Regions from separate parts of the Homo sapiens genome. Here all the other regions are linked to region 3. Evidence: fine-mapped expression QTL. A gene starts in region 3. Each other region holds a variant in brackets. All regions are shown on one strand. Distances are between the middles of the regions.

What was found. PIP is the estimated chance that this variant, and not a neighbour inherited with it, causes the effect.
Region 1: its variant is fine-mapped to the expression of CISD1 in whole blood (INTERVAL, PIP above 0.99).
Region 2: its variant is fine-mapped to the expression of CISD1 in fibroblasts (GTEx, PIP 0.98).

What each region holds. Positions count from the first base shown.
Region 1 is chr10:58,380,834-58,389,080 of GRCh38, reverse strand. TFAM (transcription factor A, mitochondrial) reads right to left here and starts at 3,671. Exons shown (of 7, transcript NM_003201.3): 1 at 3,433-3,671; 2 at 2,743-2,861; 3 at 821-891; 4 at 262-411. The coding sequence starts at 3,533. RefSeq lists enhancers at 3,271-3,927, 4,121-4,220 and a silencer at 3,611-3,990. The variant C/G (reference allele first, on the strand shown) is at 3,244.
Region 2 is chr10:58,201,407-58,209,406 of GRCh38, reverse strand. All of the region lies in intron 4 of IPMK (inositol polyphosphate multikinase), which reads left to right. Among named protein-coding and RNA genes, the nearest start is that of IPMK, 62 kb to the left of the region's middle. The variant C/T (reference allele first, on the strand shown) is at 3,654.
Region 3 is chr10:58,265,138-58,273,376 of GRCh38, reverse strand. It overlaps CISD1 (CDGSH iron sulfur domain 1), which reads right to left and starts at 4,215. Exons shown (of 3, transcript NM_018464.5): 1 at 4,073-4,215. The coding sequence starts at 4,103. It overlaps IPMK (inositol polyphosphate multikinase), which reads left to right and starts at 5,483. Exons shown (of 6, transcript NM_152230.5): 1 at 5,483-5,955. The coding sequence starts at 5,766. RefSeq lists silencers at 3,788-3,837, 4,428-4,487, 5,193-5,702 and enhancers at 4,058-4,107, 3,953-4,509, 5,954-6,248, 6,203-6,312.

The DNA.
Region 1 (8,247 bases), 120 kb before region 3:
TTACTGTTCTACGAACTGTACACCTTAAATGTGGATACATCTGCAAGTAGCAACAAGGATTTCCAAACAGACTCAATGGCAAGTGGTCCTAGTGGCTATCTCACTTTTCATAAGAGAACTATCCCACTTCTGCCTAACTGAAGAATACTTGATGACATTCTACCATATTTTATTTGCCTATTAAGAGAAAACTACCTATATTCATAGTTATATAAATCTCAATTCTTTACCATAAGAAAAAAGTATTTCAATGATACTCACTTTTTTTTTTGTCATAGCTTTCCTTTTTAAATGTTTGTCCATGATTTCTTTTTCCAAAGACATAATCTGACTTGGAGTTAGCTGTTCTTTAAATCTGCTTATCTCTTCTTTATATACCTGCCACTCCGCCCTATAAGCATCTTGATATATCTATAAATAAAAAACCCAAGTAAGTCAACAAACCATTGCTGGCAAATTCAACATAGCACATGCCAGGGAAAGGCAACTGCATGACTTCAGACAGACAGATTTTATCACCAGGTGGAAAATGTGCTCTGGGATGAGATGTATATGGATTAAAACATACATTTTCCTTATATATACTAATCAAGGTGAGAGTTTAGTAATCAGCTTCCATTTTCAAACTACTGCCACTTCTTCACCTCCACCCCATACATCCATATTCTCATTATTTATGCAGATGAGAAGACATAAAGTTTCTTTGTAGATAACAGATTATTTTTTAAAAAGTCTGATCCATCTGGTCCTTTAAAGGACATGACAATTGCTCCTAACTGCAGAATAACTGGTCAGCAATGTTGAAAACTTATGTGCTTACTTTTTTCTTTGAATCAGGAAGTTCCCTCCAACGCTGGGCAATTCTTCTAATTAGTTCTGTAGTTTTTGCATCTATGGAATGAAATAAAAAGAAAAAAGATGCCACAATTTTACCTCTCAGGATTAATTTCTAAAGATATCCAGGAAAGCACAATCCATACCACACATAACTTAATATAATGATTTAACTTTCCTTTATCCAACTAATTTAAACGTAAGTAATTTATCCAACATTATCAAAAGTCTATTATCTAACAACTAAGGAGTATACCATATACCACCAGAAACAGTCAACAGTTTGATTACTAGGATTTTTTTTTTTTTTTGAGACAGGGTCCGTCACCCAGGCCATCACCCAGGCTGCAGTGCGGTGGTACAATCTTGGCCTAATGCAACCTCCACCTCCTGTGCTCAAGTGATTCTCCTGCCTCAGCCTCCCGAGTAGCTGGGACTACAGGTAGGCGCCATCATGTCCAGCTAATGTTAGTATTTTTTGTAGAGACGGGGTTTCGCTATGCTGCCCAGGCTGGCCTCAAACTCCTGAGTTCAAGCAATCCATCTGCCTCAGTCTCCCAAAGTGCTGGGATTACAGGCGCGAGCCACCACACCAGGCTGATTACTAGTTTAAGAAGCTGGATGATCAATTGCTTCAAGTTTTTTACTTCCCTTCCATATTTCAAGCAAAACACTTTTTCAAGTCTTTGAGGAATTCCTAAATTTATAAAAGCTAACAACAAAATACATTCTCGATCCATATAACACAGCCTCGTATTTCAATAACAGAAATATCATTTGGAAACAAGCTATTCGAAATTCAATCTGTTATTCTCCACTTCCTTCTTCATCTTAACCGGAATGATGGCGTGCAATTAATTGATTTTTAAAAATACCTGTTAGTACTAACTCTTACATTTAAAAGATGTGGGTACTTAAGCATGTCTCTGAAACTAACTCCTTACCTATAATGTGAGCTTTTTTTTAAAATTATTATTGTTTTTTGAGACAGGGTCTCGCTCTGTCACCCAGGCTGGAGTGCAGTGGAGCAGTCATGGCTCACTGCAGCCTCAACTTCCTGGGATCCAGTGATCCTCTCACCACAGCCTCCCAAGTAGCTGGGACTACAGGCACTGCGCCCCCATGCCCACCTCATTTTTGTATTTTTGGTAGAGACAGGATTTCCATGTTTCCCAGGCTGTTCTCGAACTCCTGGGCTCAAGCAATCCACCCATCTCGACCTCCCGAAGTGCTGGGATTACAGGTGTGAACCACCTCACCCAGCCTGATGTGAGCATTTTTTATTCTCGCCGAGAGGCTTTCTAGAGAGTCAACAAACATCCTACCTGGAAATGTTTTTTTTTTAGGAACCCAAGACAAGAAAGGATTTATCCTTTACAACCCACCATCCCCTTGGCAAGGTCGAGGTCTGAATCAAAGAACCAGAGTGGCTCTGAACTCCTATGATGAAAAGGTTTATCCTTTCTTATCTTGAAAGCTCTTGAAATTAGCAGTAAATTGCATAGAACTTTACAGTTCTACAGAACTTACAGTTTATGGATGCTTCCACAGAAGTTGCAACTTTATTAACAATTCCCTGAGCCAGAAAAAGGAGGAGCTAGGCAAGAGAAAATAATTCATCAGTGGTCCTCTAGACCAAAGGCAACAAGGCCCCAAATTCAGCTTTTTTATCCTCTTCCTAGGGTGCTTTCTACACTATACGTTATTTTTAAAATACCATTTACTAGTTCTCATTTATATTTAAAGCATTTCCATTTGGTATAAAATAGAACTTCCTATTTTACAGACATCAAATGATTGTTCCTGCAGTCACTGAATGCTTTAGCACTGCAATTCAACATTGGTATTTAACTGCTTAATGGCATTTTTATTACATGAGAAAAGGGTATATGCCCCAAAACTCCTTACCTGGGTTCTGAGCTTTAAATATGGGTAGTTGTTCTTTAGAAAATCGAAGGTAAGAACTTACAGGTTTCTTTGGACAACTTGCCAAGACAGATGAAAACCACCTCGGTAAATACACAAAACTACATATAAACAAAAAGAAAATAACCAGTGTCAGATGTTTAACTGTCAATATTCACATGTATATGAACACAGATCCCAAATAAGAAATGTCATCAAGATACTATGTATCCAACGCCTTCAACAAGAATGCTAGAGACTTATTAAAACCCTGTCCTAAACGGAGGGGAGCGTCTGCAGGACTGAAGTCTCAAAGCCCTTACCTCCTAGGAAGGGCAGGGAGTGAAGGAAAGCGTCTATACTCCAGCTCCTGGGCCCCGCCTCCTCAATGCCTAGATGATGGCCGGAGACTCGGCGCGAATTCGCAGAGGAGGCGGAAAGGATCCAAAGCTGGACAGTGAGGAGGGATGGGAGAAGCGAGTGGAGGGTAGCAAGAAGGTACGG[C/G]GTATTAAGAGAGTAAATAAAGGCCTGGTCTCAAGGCCACCGTCCCCTTGGCAAGGTCGCGGTCTGAATCAAAGAACCAGGGTGACTCTGAACTCCTAGGAGGGGCAGAAAGTGAAGGATAGGGTCTACATTCCAACCCCGGGACGTCCTGGGCCCTGCTGCCCCTAGGGCACAGGCAAGCGGGCCTACCTGAAGGGGGAGCGCAGTCGACTTCCACAGCCGGTGCACAGCTCTGCTCCAGACCTTCCCAGGGCACTCAGCACGCCCCACATGCTTCGGAGAAACGCCATCGCTCCGGTGGATGAGGCAGTGACCCGACCCCAATCTCGGAGAGCCTCCTGGCAATACACAACTCCAGCAATCACAACTGGAACCCGCGTGCGACCCTCCGGCGTGTGTTATCATGCCCGCCACTAGCGAGGCACTATGGGAAATCTGCTAACATCCGGTCGGTAGATGGGGGCGGGGCGGGGCGGAATTGGCGCAGGCGCGGGAGAGCGTACCCCGGTGGGCGGCCTTGCGGGGGAGGAATAAGAGCCGCGGAGATGAAGGGAAACCGCAATCCTCTAGCCTGCGGAGGGCTCTGGCTTCGAGGCGGCGCTGTTGAGCCACCTCTGTCCCCGGCCGCCCGGAGCAGTGGGTTCCTCTGCCGGGCCAGGAGGGTGATGGAGGGACCGCGGCGGCGGCCTCACCCCAACCCGGCGTTGGCCGGTGTCCGCCCGTGACGGTCACAAGGGCTGTACGTAACAGACAGTCCTGCATCCAGGACCCCGAGGTCCGATCGGCGGCTGCTGCGCGCCCAGCGGAGCGTCTCAGTTCAAGCCAGGGCTGGAGCTCGGAGTTCAGAAATAGTAACGGGAGAGGCGGGGATTCGCAAACCTAAAAATGCAGATTCCAAGGCCTTACCGCAGAGCTTAATTCCGTGTGTCTATGTGGGGCCCATTAATCTTCATTTTAGCGAGTTCCCCAGAATTTAACAAGTTCTAATGTCGGTGGTCTTGAGACCACATTTAAAGCAATATAGCTTTAGACTGTTTATTCTACCATCTACTGCAGTCTTTCAGTCTGGCCTCCAGCTTGCTTAATTTGAGCAGAGGAAACTGGCTAGTTGTCCACAGTCGCTAGTCTCAATTCTTCTAGTTCCAGTATTAACATTAACGTCTTGACTTGGGAATATTGCATTCCCTCGTTAAGATTCAGTTTCCCCCTCTGCAAACGAGGATGTTAGACTAAATCAGTTTTCCCAGCCAAAGCCCTGAGAACGTGTGACAAGTATGCCTTGAGACATTGATGTGTCAAAAATTGCTGTATAATTTTTTTATTTGTGTTATAGAAATACCATTTTCTGTATAGGCAATGGCATGAAAAAGATTAGGAAGACCTAAAGATACCTAAGGGTCCTTCCAGCCCTTAAATACCAGTTGTTTCAGAGCTAACCACCTTCTGAGACAGCCTTTCTTCTGTTGGATAGCCGTAATTGTTAGAAAATTCTTACCAGTGTCATATTGAGCTGACAGTCTATTTACCTTTCTGTAACTATGAAAACATTGGCTCTCTGGAAGTAGGACTAAGCCTACTTCTTCTTTTAAGCGGTAATAACCACTTCCCTTTTATAGACTCCCAGGGTTGAAAGGGACCTTCCAAGTCATCTGTTCAAACCTCCCATTCTGGCATGGAATAAACAGGTTTTTTTCCTGAGTATATACTATGTACAACGCCCTAAACATAGATAAAAGACACAGTGTTGTGCCCCAGCCCACCCCCCGCCCCCAGCCCCAAAGGTGAGGCAAAGTAGCAAATAATTACAACATGGGGCTCAGACAGAAGTTACATTTAAGTTGATTTCTAAAATAATTTGTTTCCCTTTTTGTTCTAGAATGTTTTTGTTCTTTCAAATGTTTGACATAAACTTCTTTTGGATATTAAACTTTTTGTTGTTTTCGACTTTCATTTGTATAAATCTTGCTGTAAAGACCTTAAAAATCAAATCCATAACATTTTTCATCAGATACCAATCTTCCTTAAAACTCATTTACATTGCAGTGATAATTTTACTTCTAAAAGCAGAATTTACAAAGAAACATAACTTTATCCACTAAAACTGTCTTTTAACAAAAAGACATGGTATATAATTACTTTATAAAACATGAAGACTTACTGCAGCCTTTCCCAGGGTCCCTTTGTTGTAAAGTTCTCTAGTCCCATGACTTCAGCTATTAGTTATAGCCTCATGACTGCCATATTGAACCCAGTCCTCTCCTTTGAGTTCCGTATCCACATAACCACTGTCTTCTGTACATTTTCACCATCATGTCCCACAAGTACTTCAATTTCAACATTCCCTGAACAAAATCCACTATCTTTCACCCATCTTGAAGTCCTTCTCTTGGTAAGATGCACATGTTTTCCTCTTTAATCATCTGAGCCAATAACTTGATAAATCATTTTAGAATCTCCCCATTGACACTCCACCTGCCATTAACCAACTGATGATGAGTATTGCTGATTCTGCCTCATTCATCCCTCTAGTATGTATTTCCTTCTCTCTAGTCCCATTGCTGTTGCTTTTGTTCAGGCCAGTAATATGCTGGTAAATAGCTCTCCAAAAAAGAAAGCCCCAATTTGTGGTGTTTGCTGAGTTCTATGGTGTAAATACTCCCACCATTGGCAGATTTCATGCTACTGACAAATTTTTCTTTTCCTGTTAACATGCAAACATACATATTACATAACCAGCATTGCTCCTTTCTTCCTGTTGAACTTTTAATATTTCTTAAATTAGTAATATTTGAGCAGACACATTGTGGTAGTTGATGAAAAATTAAAACAACACACCCTGAAGTTGGATTGCACTTTAATATTTTCAGAAATTTTTAAATAACTTTATTTGACTGTATGATTCAAATATCAAAGGAAAAGGTAGAGAAGGTATTGTCATGATCATTATTCCCAATTTCCAGATGAGAAAAATGAAGTTCAGAAAGCCCAACTCATAAGCTTCCAACAGTAAGTTGTGTAGGTAAAAATTGCAATTCATTGTCCTGTGCTTTTCGTTTGTATCAGATCACTCAGACTCAGTGAACATGCCACATCATTCCAGCCCAAAATATCTTTAGTGGATCATCTATAGTGTGTGAGCTCACATCACTTACTTGTGACATCATGTACCACTCTGGTTTCTGATCTTTTTCTCTATGTATACATATTTTTTTCCACAATAGATGGTAAGTTATATTAGGAAAAGACTAAATCTTATGCCTTCTTTTATCCCCTATTGTACCTAGCACAGTACACTGAGCATGATAGATGGATGAAGGGACAAACGGATGGATAGGTGAACTGACAGATATATAGATAGATAGATAATAGATGACAGACAGACATATAGATACACAGAGAGAGATGAATAGTGTGAAAAGATTAGCATCTGCACAAATTATTTATATATAAATTTAGCCCCATAGAGAACAACTACCTGTTAGAAGTGTCATTTGCCAATAGAAGGACACATTTGCCAGTGTGTGGAGATGGAAACCATGTAAAATTCTGAAATATATATACACATGAAAGTAATGATTATGGTTCATTGATACTTGCACATTGGTAAAGCAGAAGGTAGTGCCAATAAACAGCAGGAGCAGCCAGAAACCTGGATAATTCCCTGCTGAATAATGGAGTTAGATGCACAGATATCACTCAAATGAAGAAAAAATGTTGCTAAGAGAAAGCAGTCTTGGCTTTTGTAATTATAATAGATAAATAATTTAGCTACAACAGGAGCAATTACCTAATAGGTTTTAGCAGGATAAATAGATGTGATTCTGAACTTGTAAGTAAAATATCTCTGGAAATAAGATCATACTATGGACACCACATTTAAAGACAATTTCCTCATAAGCAATTACAAAGCACTGTGATAAGCACTTGAAAGGGGCACAAAAAGCATAAGATATTGATCCTGCCCCAAAGAGCTGACACTGTGATTGGGGGAACAAAGCATAAAGACACAAAAGGAATAAAAGTATAACAGTGCATTGCAGCAATGAGAAAAAATTTTACACCTTGAATATCTCCTAGCTTATTTTTTCTGTGAGTCAAGATTTTAATAAATTATGTATGGAAAACTACTTGTATAATTTTTTCTTTCAAACCATTTTTATTGACATAGAGTCTGTTTTCATGCCACTGGAGTTTGCCTTTAAAATCAATATACAAAAAGAAGGAAGGGAAAGAGAAATAGAGAAATTAGAAGAAAGACCTGTTGCATGTTAATAGTTCCCAGCTACCCGAAATTATTATTATCTGTGAAATATTTCTCAATTAGAACAAAGTCTGCATGCAGCCTTAATTATTAAGGGCATATCAGAATTATTTTAAGCCATTGCTGTAGCAGCATTACAAAAAATAAATGTAGCTTGTCTATTTTAAAGCTGATTCTATGAGTCAGCAGGAGGTAGGACAAGCAAAAAGAACAGCTATAATTTTATGCAAATGTATAATACCCCAATTCATATTACTGGATGTTACTGAAAGCTGACTTCATATTACTGAAAGCTAACTTAAAGATCGGAAGAAATCCAGAATGATTGTATTGAAGGAATAATGCTGTTAATAGGACAATATAATGTGTCTGCCCTCATACCACGGTAAAGTATCTGATCAATACAAATGGTAATAATTATAATTTATTGCTAAACTACATGCCAAGTATTTTACATACATTATCACTAATCCTTTCATAAATCCTCTAAGGTGCTATGATTTCTACTGTACAGCTATGAAAACTGTATAAATAATAGGAAGGATATCTTCCTTGTTAGCATGTTAATAACAAAAATTGCCACCTCTGAATCCACAGTTTGCAGCTTTGAAGTTATATATGACTCTACGTAGATACAGGATAGGTAAATCAGTCATGAAGCGGTAGTTTTCTTAAACACCTGCTCACATTCTATTATTTCCAGTCCCCATAAATGCTTTCTTATTTATCTGAGTGGCTTACTA
Region 2 (8,000 bases), 64 kb after region 3:
CTTGAGTTCCAGATCTTTTCACTGGTGGGTAGTTTCTCACAGCAGAGACACAATTGCAGTGCTAGGTACAGCTGGGAAAGTCTGCATATACACTGCAACAGGCGGGCAGCCACTGTGATCATGAAGGACCTTGGAGAAGAGGTCCTTGTTCTCCCCAGGACTCCACTGTAGACATAGCTGGGGCATCCCCTACAGGAATGCAGCATGGAGGCACCTATAGAAAGCCATTCTGGAATAATCCAGGGTAAGTGCAGCCTGACAGGAGGAGCACCCCCCAGATTCAGGCCTGCACAAGAGGCAGAGTCACAATCACTCCCTGTTTGGAATAACAACATTCCTATAGATGAAAAGAGGTGCCTGTCTGATCAGAATAGCTGAAACACTAGTATAGGAGTGAGGCTGTGAGGTAAATAGTTTTCCCGCTGACTTGGTAGGGAAGCTGTGGTAGTTCCCACTCTTCACTCTGATAAATCCTCAGCACATCTAATTGAGAGCCACCCCAGCTACCCTCATCAAGGCTGGGACTTTGGCCCACCATTGGGTATTACATCTACTCACCTGCCTTAGCGACATCTGCTGCCTATGCAGGGATACCCCCTCTATGGGCCTGAAGCCGGAATCATCAACTTAGGAAAAAATTAAATAAATAAGGTGTACACCACGAGAGAACAAGATAAGCTTCAAGAGATCCCTGCCATTCCAACTCTATAGGAGACAGTGAACTCACCCACACACTAATAATATAACTACTATAGCCAGCATTAGGGAAAGCCAGCACACAAAGACTCTCTATAACTAAGGAACTCATACAGAGTCTTTATCCCTACAAGTACCAAGAATCAGTTTAGACTAAAATGAACATTAAAGTCTAATCCTTAAGAGAGAGAGAGAAAAAGTAAATAAAAAACAGTCAAATCAAAAATATATTCAAGAACAATTTGAAGAAGCAGTCTACCCAAACGAGAAGGAATTAGAAAACTAATTCTGGTAATATGACAAAAACAGGGCTCTATAACACCCCGAAAAGATCACAGTAGCTCCCTAGCAATGGATCCAAACCGAGATGAAATCTCTGAATTGCCATATAAAGAATTCAGAAGGCTGATTATTAAGCTACTCAAGGAGATACCAGAGAAAGGTGGAAAGCAACTTAAATTTTAAAAACAGGGCCAGGTGTGGTGGCTCACACCTGTAATCCCAGCACTTTGGGAGGCTGAGGCGGGTGGATCACGAGGTCAGGAGATCGAGACCATCCTGGCTAACATGGTGAAACCCCATGTCTACTAAAAATACAAAAAATTAGCCGGGCGTGGTGGCGGGCGCCTGTAGTCCCAGCTGCTGGGGAGGCTGAGGCAGGAGAATGGCGTGAACCCGGGAGGTGGAGCTTGCAGTGAGCCGAGATCGCGCCACTGCACTCCAGCCTGGGCACCAAAGCAAGACTACATCTAAAAAAAAAGAAAAATGAACAAAGCCTCCCAGAAATTGGGGTTTATGTTAAATGGCCAAACCTAAGAATAATTGGTCTTCCTAAAGAAATCTAAAAGTTTGGAAAACTTATCTGAGGGAATAATTACGGAAAACTTCTCTGGCCTTGCTAGAGATCTAGACATCAATTACAAGAAACGCAAAGAAATCCTAGGAAATTCATTGCAAAAAGATCATCACAATCCTAAATATATATGCACCTAACACTGGAGCTCCTAAATTCATAAAGTAATTACTACTAGACCTAAGAAATGAGATAACACACAATAATAGTGGGGCACTTCAGTACTCCACTGACAGCACTCGATGGGTTATCAAGACAGAAAGTCAACAAAGAAACAATGGACTTAAACTATACCCTAGAACAAATGGACTTTAACATGGATGTGTTGAAAAGAGAACACTTTTACACTGCTGGTGGGAATGTAAACTAATACAACCACTATGGAAAACAGTGTGAACTAAAAGAACTACCATTCGATCTAGCAATCCCACTACTGGGTACCCAAAGGAAAAGAAGTTGTTATATGAAAAAGACACTTGCATATGCATGTTTATAGCAGTACAATTCGCAGTTGCAAAAATATGGAACCTGTCTAAATGCCTGTCAACCAATGAATGGATAAAGAAAATGTGATTGCCTGTAATCCCAGCACTTCGGGAGGCCGAGGCAGGCGGATCACAAGGTCAGGAGATCGAGACCATCCTAGCTAACATGGTGAAACCCCATCTCTACTAAAAATACAAAACATTTAGCCAGGCTTGGTGGTGGGTGCCTGTAGTCCTAGCTACTCAGGAGGCTGAGGCAGGAGAATCGCTTGAACCCAGGAGGCGGAGTTTGCAGTGAGCTGAGATCGTGCCATTGCGCTCCAGGCCTGGGCAACAGAGCAAGACTCCGTCTCAAAACAAGAAAAGAAAATGTGATATATATATATATACATGGTGGACTATTACTCAGCCATAAAAAGGAGTGAAATAGTGGCATTTGCAGCAACTTGAATGGAGTTGGAGACCATTATTCTAAGAGAACTCAAGAATGGAAAACCAAATACTATAGGCTCTCACAAGTGGGAGCTAGGTTTTGAGGATGCAAAAGCATAAGAATGAGATAATGGACTTTGGGGACTTGAGGAAGGGTGGGATGCAGGTGAGGGATAAGACTACACATTCAGTAAAATGTGCACTGCTTGGGTGACAGGTGCACCAAGATCTCAGAAATCACCACTGAAGAACTTATCCATGTAACAAAAAAACCACCTATTCCCCAAAAGCTATTGAAATAAAATAATAATAATAGTAAACTCTTCTTTGGGTTTGCATTACCTTTAGGGTACATGGACAGGATAAGCAAATAGGGTATTGTATGATTTCACTCTGCTGGGATTTATTGTTTCCCTAGACATAAATGGAGGTTTATTTCTTAAAGAGGTTTAGTTTTTTAAAATAGCTTTAGCGAGATGTCATTTACATACCATTCTGTTAATCATTTAAAGTATAGAGTTCACTGGTTTTAATCAATTCATAGACTTGGGCAACTATTACCACATTCAACTTACAGTATTTTTTACCACTTCTGCAAAAACTTCATACACATTAGCAGTCCCTACCAATTTCCTTCCAAACTCCCTGTCCCTAGGGAACCACTAATCTATTTTCTATCTCTATGGATTTGCCCCTTCTGGACGATTCATATAAATCAAATTTACAGTACAATGTGTGGTATTTTGTGACTGGCTTCTTTGATTTAGTTTCGTGTTTTTAAAGTTCACCCATGTTGTCATATAAGTCAGTACTTTGTTTTTTATTGCCAAATAATATTCGATTATATGGATATACCACATTTTGTTTATCCATTCATTCATTGATGGACTTTGGGTTGTTTCTACTTCTGGGCTACTAATAACTGTTATGAACATTTGTATAGAAGTTTCTGTGTAGGTATATGTTTTATTTCTCTCAGGTAGATTCCTAACTGTGCAACTGGTAGGTCCTAAGGTTAAGTTTATGTTTAACTTTTTGAGAAACTGCCAAAGTGTTTTTCCAAAGTGACTTTACCATTTTATTTAGTTATTTAATTTTTTAAAAAATTATTTAAGTAGCTTTTGGGGTACAGTTTTTTGTTGTTGTTACATGGATGAATTATATAGTGGTAAATTCTGAGATTTTAG[C/T]GTACTCATCACCTGAGTAGCGTACATTGTACCTAATATGTAGTTTTTTAAATCCCTAGCCACCCTTCCCACTCTTCTCCTTCCAAGTGTCTAAAGTCAATTGTATTACTCTGTATGCCTTTGTTTACTCATAGCTTAGTTCCCACTTGTAAGTGAGAACATATGGTGGCTTCACCGTTCATTTTACATTCCCACCAGCAATTCATGATGGTTCCATTTTCTCCACATTCTTGAAACCTTTGTTCCTTTTTGTTTTTCTGCTATAAGCCATCCTAGTAGGTGTCGAGTAGCATCTCCTTGTGGTTTTGATTTGCCTTTCTCTAATGATTAATGATGTTGAGCATCTTTTCATGTGCAATGTTTTTGACTACATATGTCTTCTTTGGAAAAATGTCTATTCAGACATTTTGTTTTTAATTATTGAGCTGTATATAAATCCATCAAACTTTTGATTTGCAAATTTTTTTCTAATCTGATTTTCTTACTTGATAGTATTTGTCGAAGCCTCCAAATTTTTAATTTTGAAGTCCAATTTACTTTTTTTTGTTACCTAGGCTTTTGGTGTAAAATCTAAGAAACCATTGCCTAACCCAAACTCATCAAGATTTACTCCTATTTTTCTTGTAAGAATGTTATAATTTTATCTCTTGTATTGAGACTTATGATACATTTTAAGTTAATTTTTTGTATGCTTTAAGGAAGGGGTCAAACTTCATTCTTTTGCATATGGATATCCAGTTGTCCCAGCACCATTTGTTGATAGGACTGTTATTCCCCCAGTGAATATTCTTGATACCCTTGTTGGAATTAAATTTTTGACCATAAATGTTTTCCATTTTCATATTGTCTATCCTTATGCCAAGTACTACACTGTTTTGATTAATGTTGCTTTGGAGTAAGTTTTGAATTATGAGTCCTCCAATTTTGTTCTTTTTTAAATTTTATTTTATTTTATTTTGAGACTGGGTCTTTGCTCTGTCATCCAGGCTAGAGTGCAGTAGCGTGATCGTGTCTTACTGCAGCCTCGAACTGCTGGGCTCAAGCAATCCTCCTACTTAAGCCTCCCAAGTAATTGACACTACAAGTGTACACCATCACACCCAACTAATTTTTAAATTATTTTGTGGAGACTGTGTCTCACTTTGTTTCCTAGGCTAGTCTTGAACTCATGGGCTCAAATGATCCTCCCGCCTTGGCCTCCCAAAGTGCTGGGATTGCAGGTGTGAGCCACTGCACCTGGCCTCAGCTTTGCTCTCTTTTTCAAATTTGTTTTGGCTATTCTGGATCCCTTTAGTTTCCACATGAATTTTAGGATCAGCTTGTCAGTTTCTGCAAAGAAGTCGCAAAATGAGCAACTAATATGGTGACGTACGAGGAAAAGCTGGAGCTTGCTTTTGCTTATCATTCTGTCCTCCTACACCTGTTTCTCAGTTTTCTTTCCATTAAAAAAAAATTGGATACTTTTTTGTTACGTATTTACGTGTTTTTAGGTTGAGAATGTTAACTTTTATTACAAATATCTTTGCTACCACACCTAGCTTATTTTTTATTTTTTATAGAGATGGGGTCTTGCCATATTGCCCAGGCTCATCTTAAACTCCTACACTCAAGCAGTCTTCCTGCCTCAGCCTCCCAAAGCACTATTATTAAAGGCATGAGGCACTGTGCCTGGTTGCATTATGTTTTTTTAAAAAACAGTGTGTATACTTTAATTAAAAAATACTTATTGCTAAAGAATACTAATGATCATCTGAGCGTTCAGTGAGTTGTTTCCTTTTGCTAGTAGAGGCTCTTGCCTGTGGCTGCTGATTGATCAGGGTGGTGGCTGCTGAAGGTTTGAGTGCCTGCAGCAATTTCTTAAAATAAGACAGCAATGAAGTTTGCCACATAAATTTACTCTTTTTTAAATGAAAGGTTTCTCTGGAGCATGTGATGCTCTTTGATAGAATTTTACCCACAGTAGAACTTTGAAAATTGGAGTCAGTCCTCTCAGATCCTGCCACTGCTTTATCAAGTAAGTTTATGTAATATTCTAAATTGTTCATTGTCATTTCAACAATGTTTACAACATCTTTACTAGGAGTAGATTCCATCTCAAGAAACCACTTTCTTTGCTCATCCATGAGAAGCCACTCTGAGGCCAGGGGCAGTGGCTTATGCCAGTAATCCCAACACTTTGGGAGGCTGAGGCGGGTGGATCGCTTGAGCTCAGGAGTTTGAGAACAGCCTGGGCAACATGGTGAAACCCCGTCTACAAAAGAATACAAAAATTAGCCAGACATGGTGGCATGCACCTGTAGTCCCAGATACTCAGGAGGCTGAGGTGGGAGGATTGCTTGAGTACAAAAGGTTGAGGCTGCAGTGAGCCGTGATCGTGCTACTGCACTCCAGCCTGGGTGACAGAGCGAGACCCTATCTCAGTCAGCCAATCAATAAAACAAGCAAGCAAGTCACTGTTCATCCATTCACGGTTTATCATGAGATTGCAGCAATTCAGTCACATCTTCAGCCTTCAGTCTTAATTCTAGTTCACTTGCTCTTTCTACCACATCTGCAGTTACCTCCTCCACTGAAGTCTTGAATTGAACTCCTCAAAGTCATCCATGAGGGTTGGAATTAACTTCTTCCAAACTCCTGTTAATGTTGATATTTTGACCTCCTCCCATGAATCTCAAATCTTCTTTATGCCATCTAGAATGGTGAATTCTTTCCAAAAGGTTTTCAATTTACATTGCCCCAGTCCATCAGAGGAATTACTATCAATGGCAGCTGTATGTAGCCTTGCAAAATGTATTTCTTAAATAATAGAACTTAAAAGTTGAAATTACTCCTTGATCCATAGAACTGCAAAAGGAATGTTATTAGCAGGCATGAAAACAATATTAATCTCCTTGTACATCATCAGTAATCTTGTTAGGTGACCAGGTGCACTGTCAATGAGCAGTAATATTTTGGAAGGAATCTTTTTTTCTGAGTAGTAGTTCTCAATGGTGGGCTGAAAATATTCAGTAAACCATGCTATAAACAGATGTGCTGTCATCCAGGCTTTGAGCCCAGGCAGAGTAGATTCAGCACATTTTTTTGTTTGTTTGTTTTGAGACAGGGTCTTGGCCCAGGCTGGAGTCCAGTGGCATAATCATAGCTCACTGCAGCCCCCAACTCCTGGGCTCAAGCAGTCCTCCCACCTCAGCCTCTCAAGTAGCTGCGACTACAGGCATATGCCACCACACCCAACTAATTTTTAAATTTTTTGTAGAAACGGGGTCTCACTATGATGCTCAGGCTGTTCTTGAGCTCCTTGCCTCAAGTTGTCCTCTGGCCTCAAGCAATCCTCCTGCCTCAGCCTCCCAAAGGGCTGGGAGATTCAGCATAATTCTTAAGGGCTCTAGGACAAATGAGTGAGTATTGGCTTCAACTTAAAGTCACCAGCTGCATTTGCCCCTAATAAGAGAGTTAGCCTGTCCTTTGAAGCGTTGAAGCCAGATACTGACTTCTTATCTCTAGCTATGAAAACCCTAGGTGGCATTTTTTTCAATAGAAGGCCGTTTCATCTACATTGAGAATCTGTGGTTTGGGGTAGATACCTTCATCAGTTATCTTCTGGATAAGTTGCTGTAGCTTCTACAACTACTTCACCTTGCATTTTAGGTTAAATGCTTCACCTTGCATTTTAGGTTAAAAACAACGTCTTTCCATAAACTTCTGCTAGGGTCTATGAACCAGCCTTTGCTAGTTTGCACTTTTCTTTCGCAGCTTCCTCATGGTGACTCTCAGCCTTAATAGAATTGAAGAGAGTCTTACCCTGGATTAGGCTTTGACTTGAGGTAATGTTGTGGCTGGTTTGGTCTTCTATCCAGACCACTAACACTTTCTTCATATTAGCAGTAAGGCTGTTTCACTTTCTTATCATTTGTGTGTTTACTGTAGTTAGCACTCTGAATTTCCTTCAAGAGCTTTTTCTTTGCATTCATAGCTTGGCTGTTTGGCACAAGAGGCCTAGTTTTAGGCCTGTCTTTGCTTTCAGGATGCCTTCCTTACTAAGTTAATCACTTTTTAGCTTTTGATTTTAAGTGAGAGACGTGACATTTCCTTTCATTGAACACTTAGAGGCCATTGGAGGGTTATTAATTAATTAATTGGAGGGTTACTAATTATTAATTGGCCTAATTTCAATATTGTGCCTCAGGGGATAGGGAGGCCTGAAGAGAGGAAGAGAGATGGGGGAACAGCTGGTCAGTGGAACAGTCAGGACACACATATTTATCCAATTTGCCATCTTATGTGCGTGTGCTTCGTGACATCCCAAAATAATCACAGGAGTAACATCAAAGATCACTAATCACAGAT
Region 3 (8,239 bases):
AAACCCTTCCCTCCCTTAGATCTCCCATAGGCTGGCAGGCCGTGCCTGGTAATTTTTTTTTTTCTCAAGGCCTGGCATATAAGTGATATTCAATAATGTTGGTTGAGTCAAAAGAAATAATGGATGACTAATTTAAATTTGCAATTCCTATGTGCAATTTTTCTATCCTTACACTGCATTGCTCTTATACTAAATGACTTATCTTTACCTTCTTCTTAACCTGCTGTATCAGGGTGTGGAATTTACTCCCTGATACATATATTAAAAACAAACAAACAAACAAACAAAAAACTTCAGGTATATATAAGAAGCTATGTTTTAAAAAAACTTTATTATGGACCATTTCAGACACACACAGGGAATACTATAATGAATCCCATTTACCCTCAATTAGCTCTAACCACCATCAATTTGGCCAGTCTATAGCTCCAAACTCCCCCCTTATTTTTCTTTTTTTTGCGATGGAGTCTCGCACTGTTGCCCAGGCTGGAGTGCAGTGGTGCAATCTCAGCTCACCGCAACCTCTGCCTCCTGGGTTCAAGCAATTCTCGTGCCTCAGCCTCCCAAGTAGCTGGGACTACAGATGCGTGCCACCATGCCTGGCTAATTTTTTGTATTTTTAGTAGAGACGGGGGTTTCACCATGTTGTCCAAGCTGGTCTCGAACTCCTGACCTCATGATCTGCCCGCCTTGGCCTCCCAAAGTGCTGAGATTACAGGCGTGAGCCACCGCACCCAGCCCTCTTATTTTTCATTTATTGTTTATAACTTATAGGAGCTATCCCTTTTATTTTCAGTATGATCCATACCTTTCTTTTCAGACAAAAACCCTTAAATAATGACTTTAAATGACTTGGTGAATTTAGTGAACCAAAACAATATTTTCCTATGTTGTGGTTAAATGAATTAGAAAATTAGTTTCAATAAAATACACAAGAATATGAAAGAGAATAAGAATTTATGAAATGTAATTTTGGTTACAAGCGTTGTAGTGATCAGGGTTTGGGATAGATAATGAAGTACAAGATGAACAGACAAATCCCTATGTTGCAACTTGAGGGTAAAGTAAAAAAAAAAAAGTGATTTCAGGGGAAGGCAGGTTAAGGGATGCCTTTCAAAATTACCTGGTATAGTTGGCTTTTTTTTTTTTTTAAAGATGAGGGTGAATTATGAGTGACTTAAGGCTGAAGAAAATCTTTATGAGGCACTAAATATTTACGAACAACAGATATCACTGAGGCAAAGATTTAAGCAAAAGAAAACGGCATCTGGAGGACATGGAGAGAGAACAGCCTAAGAGTTAACATCTTCCTTGCAAATAGAAGAGAAAGGGTTAAGGGTGAGAGTGATCAATGAGTGCTAGAGTTATCAAGGAGCAGGATGATGTTCAGAAAGGTCATCTATTTGGATATGAGGAGGAATCATAAGAGACTGGACGAGTAGGCAGTGAAGGCCACTTAGTACTAGAAAATATAATAAACTAATGGTCTTATCGACCATACTGGTATCAAGAGCTATCTCAATGATCAGGATCTTAAGAGTATTTCAGTTCCAATCATTCATTCTCACTGCCTCTGCCTGATTCCAGTCCTGGCCTGATTCCCGTTAAATTTTTTTTTATAAACTACCTTTTATTTTTCTTCTGATGATGAACAAGAGTTCTGCATACACGTACACACTTTATATTTAACATATATTTATATAGTGCTTACCACTGTCACATATCATTCTAAACCCTTTATAATTACAAATTCATTTAATTGAGAAGAGACATGATATCTTTCCCCCAATTAAAAGATCTAAATTGATTTTCAATCTGTAGGAATAAACTTGGTTTAAAGTTTGAGAAGAGAACCAAACTTGTGTGTGATCTAAACATTAAAAGTTAAATCCCCTCGACATTCTCTTTCCCTACCTTGCCTACCTACTACTATATTGAGGAGGAAAATGTTGGTAGAAGAGATTTACAAAGGCTTTGGGCCTCTCCCTACAGTCCTCATGACAACTTGCATGCTTTTTGGTGAAATAAAAAATAGTCGGCCGGGCGCGGTGGCTCACGCCTGTAATCCCAGCACTTTGGGAGGCCGAGGCGGGCGAATCACGAGGTCAGGAGATCGAGAGCCATCCCGGCTAAAACGGTGAAACCCCGTCTCTACTAAAAATACAAAAAATTAGCCGGGCGTAGTGGCGGGCGCCTGTAGTCCCAGCTACTTGGGAGGCTGAGGCAGGAGAATGGCATGAACCCGGGAGGCGGAGCTTGCAGTGAGCCGAGATCCCGCCACTGCACTCCAGCCTGGGCGACAGAGCGAGACTCCGCCTCAAAAAAAAAAAAAATAGTCATGGCAACGTGTGGTGTCTCACATATGTAATCTCAGCACTTTGGGAAGCCAGGGGACCAAGGAGAAAGGATGGCTTGGGCCCAGAAGTTCAAGGTTGCAGTGAGCTATGATCACAACACTGCACTCCAGCTTGGGCCACTGAGTGAGACTCTGTCTCAAAAAATAATCACTCCTCCTAACAAAGTTGAATACTTCCAGTTGAAGCCAATAACCTGCTTCAGTGATTTCCTATTCCTTAGGCAATGGAAAATGATTGGGAAAGTTGCCTTTGAATTCCCCTATGGTTAGACTTGAAAAACAAAACAAAACAAAAAACCTTGTCTTGTCTAAAAAAGAAATCCTGCAGACCAGCCTGCAGATAGCGGTAAGTCCTAAGGGGTTCACCCGTTTCACATTTCAATAATATGCAACCTAAATAGAGTTTAGTGTTCATGTACACAAAATGATCCCGTATTTTAAACACACACTGTGGAATCTTTTGGTCCACCTCAAACATGTGCAGTCTTCCTGTAAAATTAAAAATATCAGCGGCACAAGTCACATGAACATCTCATTTCACAAGTCTTAATCCCAAGAGAATATAGTTTTTTAAAAAACAAAAACAAAAATCACACCCTATTTTAAATGCACCAAGCTGCCTCTATTAAAAAAAGTCTCAAGATGAGTATCCTTTAATATAATTTTTGCAAATAATAATCTCTATATCATTAGTAACTTCGAAATGTCATGGAATATCACCCTTAGCCAGGTAAATTTTGTCAACAGAAGTGGAACTCTCCAATTTTTGGAAACTACCTATTAAAAAATTAGGGCTCAAGTTAGTAGGGACTTTTTATTACCTGGCACTACAGATGTTCAATATTTACTGAACGTATTTTTAATTAACCTCTAGACAGTCTCTTTGCCTTTACTCAAAACCTTGCGAAGTGGCGTTTTATAGAGGGGCAAAGATCACATATATTGTGTGTCTGGTACACAGTATTATATTAACAATTATAACATCACCAAGAATGGTTATAAAGTGAAACTCCACATTAAATGACTGCTTATAAAGTCTCTTAATTTTATTATAACGGGACTTTCTGCGAAATACTGTTTCCAAACGCTAGGTACTAGCACAGGGGAAAGAAGACTCAGAAAGCTGAAGGTTCAACGAACGCAGTTTTCAATCCTTTATCCTGGACTACTGCCACCGAGTGTCAGATGCCAGAGGAATAATAAAAAACCGGGAAAACTGAAAACCTCGGATTGCGTTTCATCCCTTAAAAAAAAATCTGCAAAACTAAGATGTGATTAGTCACGCAATGCTTCAGGATTGCAGGAAATCGACGTTGTGGCCCGACGCTGACTGAAACATGAGAAGGGCAAACAGGTTTGCTGTTGTTTTCTCCCACCTTTCCTTCTTTTCCAGGCTATGTGACTTAAGGACATGAAAGCGTCTTAGGGGTGAACAAGAAAAGCTAGCGGCGCGGTCATTAGGTGTTAGGGTTTGGCTAGCTGGGGTAAACGTGGACTCTGGTCCGGCATGGCCCCAAACCATCAATCCATCCCTGACCTCGCCCCCTTTCGCTGTCCGGCCCGGAGCCCGCAGCCGGGCCGAGCGCTTGCCCTTCTGCATCTCAAGGTTATAGGACCGGCGGGCGCGTAGGGCAGTGGTAAAACAACCCAGTCGAACTGCGGGCGCGGCAACCGCTGAGCCTCACCAGCCTCACCCGCTCCCAGGCCCCACTTCACCTCGTACGCTGGAACTGGAAGTCAGACTCATGGCGCCGTCGCTTGCAAGGCGTGTGCACTAGGATACCGAGCTCAAACGGGTTCGCGCGGCCGGCGAGAGTAAAGGTGCCAGCGGCGTACTAAAGCACCGACTCCGCGATGCTACCGCGCAGGCGCCGCGGCGGGTCGTAGGCACGTGTGTGAGCTCGACCCTGGTAGGTGCTGAGCATGCGTGGAGCTGTCCTGGCCATAAGGAAGTCTGGACTCCGGATTTTGACAGCTACGGGAGGTGGGAGGAGGAAAAGACTTAGGTAGCAACAGAGTTTGCGCAACGCCGAGGGGCGGGGCCCTGAAGCCGAGGGGCGGGGCCCTGAAGCCGAGGGGCAGGGCCCTGGGATTAGGGAATCCAGGCCAGATTTTACGTCTCTTCCAGGTGTGTGGGCTTCTGGGGGCAGAAACAGGTGTTAATAGGACACTTACTTTAATCAGATACCTAAGATTTGACCCCAGTTTTTCTTGCTCGGGGCTTGTGACGATTTACCTTCAAGGCCAGGTCCAGCTTTTATATAACATGCCAGCGGCGGACATACAGGAATCAATGACTGAGTCCCATTCCAGAACCTCGCGTAGCTACCGGTGTCCATCCCTTTCTGCTTTTGATATAATTATCTACTCAGGACCTTGGAACCTGCACTATCTTAAAGGTCGAGTGGGAGAGAAAAAACTTGCTCCTTTCTTTAAAAAACATGTTCACTTAAAAAAATTAGAAGTTTTCTCTGTCTTCTACAGTCTGAAATTCGTGTCGGTTCCAATTTTATTTTATTTTTATGTGTTTTACTTTTTGGTAAGAGCGGTTTAGAGACAGCAATCCGGGGAGGGGGGCTGAGATTAACTCGAAGGGTATTTTGAAGGCGCATCTCTAATAAGCTGCCTGCTTTTACTTCTGTTGTTTTCGTGCGGGGTGGGAGTTGGAGGGAGTTGAGTGCAGTTAGGGGTGGCCTTTAGAGCCACCCTTGGCAATGCTAGTGCCTTCCAATTCTTGCCGGACTGCTCCGCACACTTAGAAGTCCCTGGCTTCTCTGAGCTGACGCGCTGAGAAGCGTGTTGAATGAATGAGGCCACAGCAGCACGCGTGACTTCGAAATGCCCGCGGGGTGGGGGTGAGAAGAAACAGGGGTGCGCTCGCCCTATCCCTGTCGCCGTCGCCAGGTCCTGGCAGCACGGCGCGCCCGCCCCGCTGACTTGGGGGGCCGGAATCCCGTTGGACGGCCTCTGGGCATGCTCAGTAGCGGCGGCAGCGGCGGTGCGGGCGGCGGTGACGCGCGCGCGGCAGCTGAGGGGACTGGAGGACGGCGGGAGGGGGCGGGGGCGCAGGAGGTGGGNCCGCCGTCGCCGTCAGGGCCCCAGGGAGCGCGGGGCGCCGCTGCTGCTGTTCTTCGGCTCGGTTCTGTCTACCGGGCAGCGCCGGGGCCGGCGGCTGCGGCGGCAGAGGAACAGGAGCCGGGAGCCGCGTTCCGCCGAGAGTTGGGCAGAGGAGCGCCCGCGCCCCGGCGGCGTCATGGGCCCCCTCCCCGCGCTTCAGAGGGCACCAGCCGCGGGAACCCCCGGGCCTCCTCGCGCCCGAGCCTGAGCGACCCTCGGGTTCTCCGGCGCCCCCTCCCTCGCCCTATTTTTTTTCCTACTCTCGCTGCCGTTACCGCTTCTGCTCTCCGTTATGGCAACAGAGCCACCATCCCCCCTCCGGGTCGAGGCGCCGGGCCCCCCAGAAATGCGGACCTCACCGGCGATCGAGTCCACCCCTGAGGGCACCCCGCAGCCGGCGGGCGGCAGACTCCGCTTCCTCAACGGCTGCGTGCCCCTCTCGCATCAGGTGGCCGGGCACATGTACGGGAAGGACAAAGTGGGTAAGTGGGGGTGGCATAGGTCTCGCCGCTCCCCTTCCGCCTGTGCGAGCCCCCTGTCAGCGGAGGCAGCCTAGCGCTCTCGGGCCTGCCTGGACGCCCCCCTGGTGTGCACGCCAAATCCCTGGCCTCTTCCGCTGTCCCCCGAAGCCTCGCCACTCGAGCAGAAGGGGCTCGGAAAGTGGGACAATTCCTAGGGTGTGGGTCGTCAGGCTTGCAGCACGGGTGGCAGGGAGAGGCGTGTCTGGTCTCACCCACCCCCCAGGGAGGTTGGGTGTTGATTGGAGACGGCGTTGTTAGTGAAAATAAGGAACTTCATTTTTACTGGACGGGGAAGTAAATTCTCCCTTGAGCACAAGGTCTGTTTATTATAGGCGAGTAGCTATTGCAAAAGAAAAGGAATGAAATGCAGATGATGCTAATCTAGTACTTCTCTGCTGGGTGCAGCTGCATAGCTGGAGGGGAAGAAAAACACTGGGCTTTTTTAGGGGGAGGTGAGAAGGGAAGAAAGCTTGTCCGTGATTTTTCCCTGTCCCTTGAGGAGGTTTTTCTGGTGTCTCCTTGATTTCTCTGGGAGGCGTGGTTCCAGTAGTGCAGAAACTCGGATTCCTGGTGGGAAATTCACACGCATATTGTACCAGAATGATACACAAAATGTTCAGCTATTCTTGTTCATTTTATAAGGCTGTATCATGGCCACTGTAATACATTTTCTGAGTTCACAAGTTTAAAGCCTATCTCAGTTTAGGAACTCTAATTCATCTAGTTTACCCGTAGTGGTTCCCTGGGCCATGATTACTGGGGTAATCTGATGGATGAGTATGTGAGTATTGTGGATCTTTGACCCGGAAGAGCCACTAGAGACAATTTAGTTTATGCCGGTAAAACGATTCGGGTTTAGGTTGCTAATACTGACATTTTTAGACGAGGTGACTAAGGCCAACCCTGGTTAAGAATGACGTGCCTGAAGTCACGTTACAATATGTTAAGAATTGTGAAACCAAGAGTTCTTCCTTTGAGTACTGTATTTTTTCACCATGTATTGTGTTTGCTGAAACAACTCAAGGCTTTTAGAAAATGGATAAGTATTAATTTGAGTATATGCTATTTCTCAAAGCGACATTTTCCACTACTTTTATTTTTACCTACTTTGTTTGTGTGCCTTTCTCCCCACTGAATTGTGAATTCCTAGATGTTAGAGAGAGAATCTGTATTCTCTCATAGCCTTGTGCACGGACTGGGAATCAGTAACACTCAGGAAATATTGAATAGTGAAAATTGACAGTTGTTTTAGTATACCGAGGTAAAGAAACAACGTCCTCAAGTTGCTCAGCATAGACATTTCCTCCTGTGTGCCAGTGTCTTGTAATGAGAATTTGAGAGTACTCATGGGGTTTCTGTTAATAGAGGAATGCCTATTGATTTATATTAATACATTGTGATTTTACTATTCCTAATAATATTCTAGATGCCTGAAAAAGTAAATGTTTCCCTAAAGGTCCCTAGAGATTGACTTATATGCAAAGGAGAATAGATTTTAAAAATCTCAACATAAAAACAATCTAAATAATTGTCACTTAAGAGTGTAACCACTGCTTATTACAGTATGTAATAGTGATCCCATTCAGAGTGATTGCAAATAGTGGCTGAAAAGTTAATTTGTCACCCAAATTGCCTAATTAATGGAAAAGTTTAGATTCTAGAGGTAGTAGTCCTTAATTTTATTATGGCATTCAGTGTAAAATAAACTTTTTTTGCAATTTCATAAGGGTCTTTTGAGTAGGGACAGTGTTTGTGTCACCATAGTAGAATGGCTTAAACATACTGTGCTAGCAACCTAATATTTGTTGAATTTAATTCTCAGATAGTTATACAATCCTGACTGTATTGTTAAGTAAAAGGATACTTGACTGATGATATATTCCCTATTTGTAAAATGGATAAGATGGTCACTAATTCAAAGTTCAACAGTTTTATTATGTTTCTCCACTGTCATAAGTCATGTACAGTTTACATCATTTAGATCATGCTTTGGTCTGTCAATTGAAATAATTCTCAGGATAAGCTTTGTTAAGGACGTTATGTTGGTATTTGTTTTGTTTTTAAATTTGTGTTACTATCAGTAAGTAACCAGAAATGTTCCATTTAGAATTATTTTACCTATTTCCAAAAAGGAGTTGTTGGCTTTGTTAGTTTAAAAATTAAACTCATGGAACTTGATAGAACAAAGGTGCTTGAACAGAAAAATAGATCTTGTTATATATGCTAAGTAACAAGCATATATTAG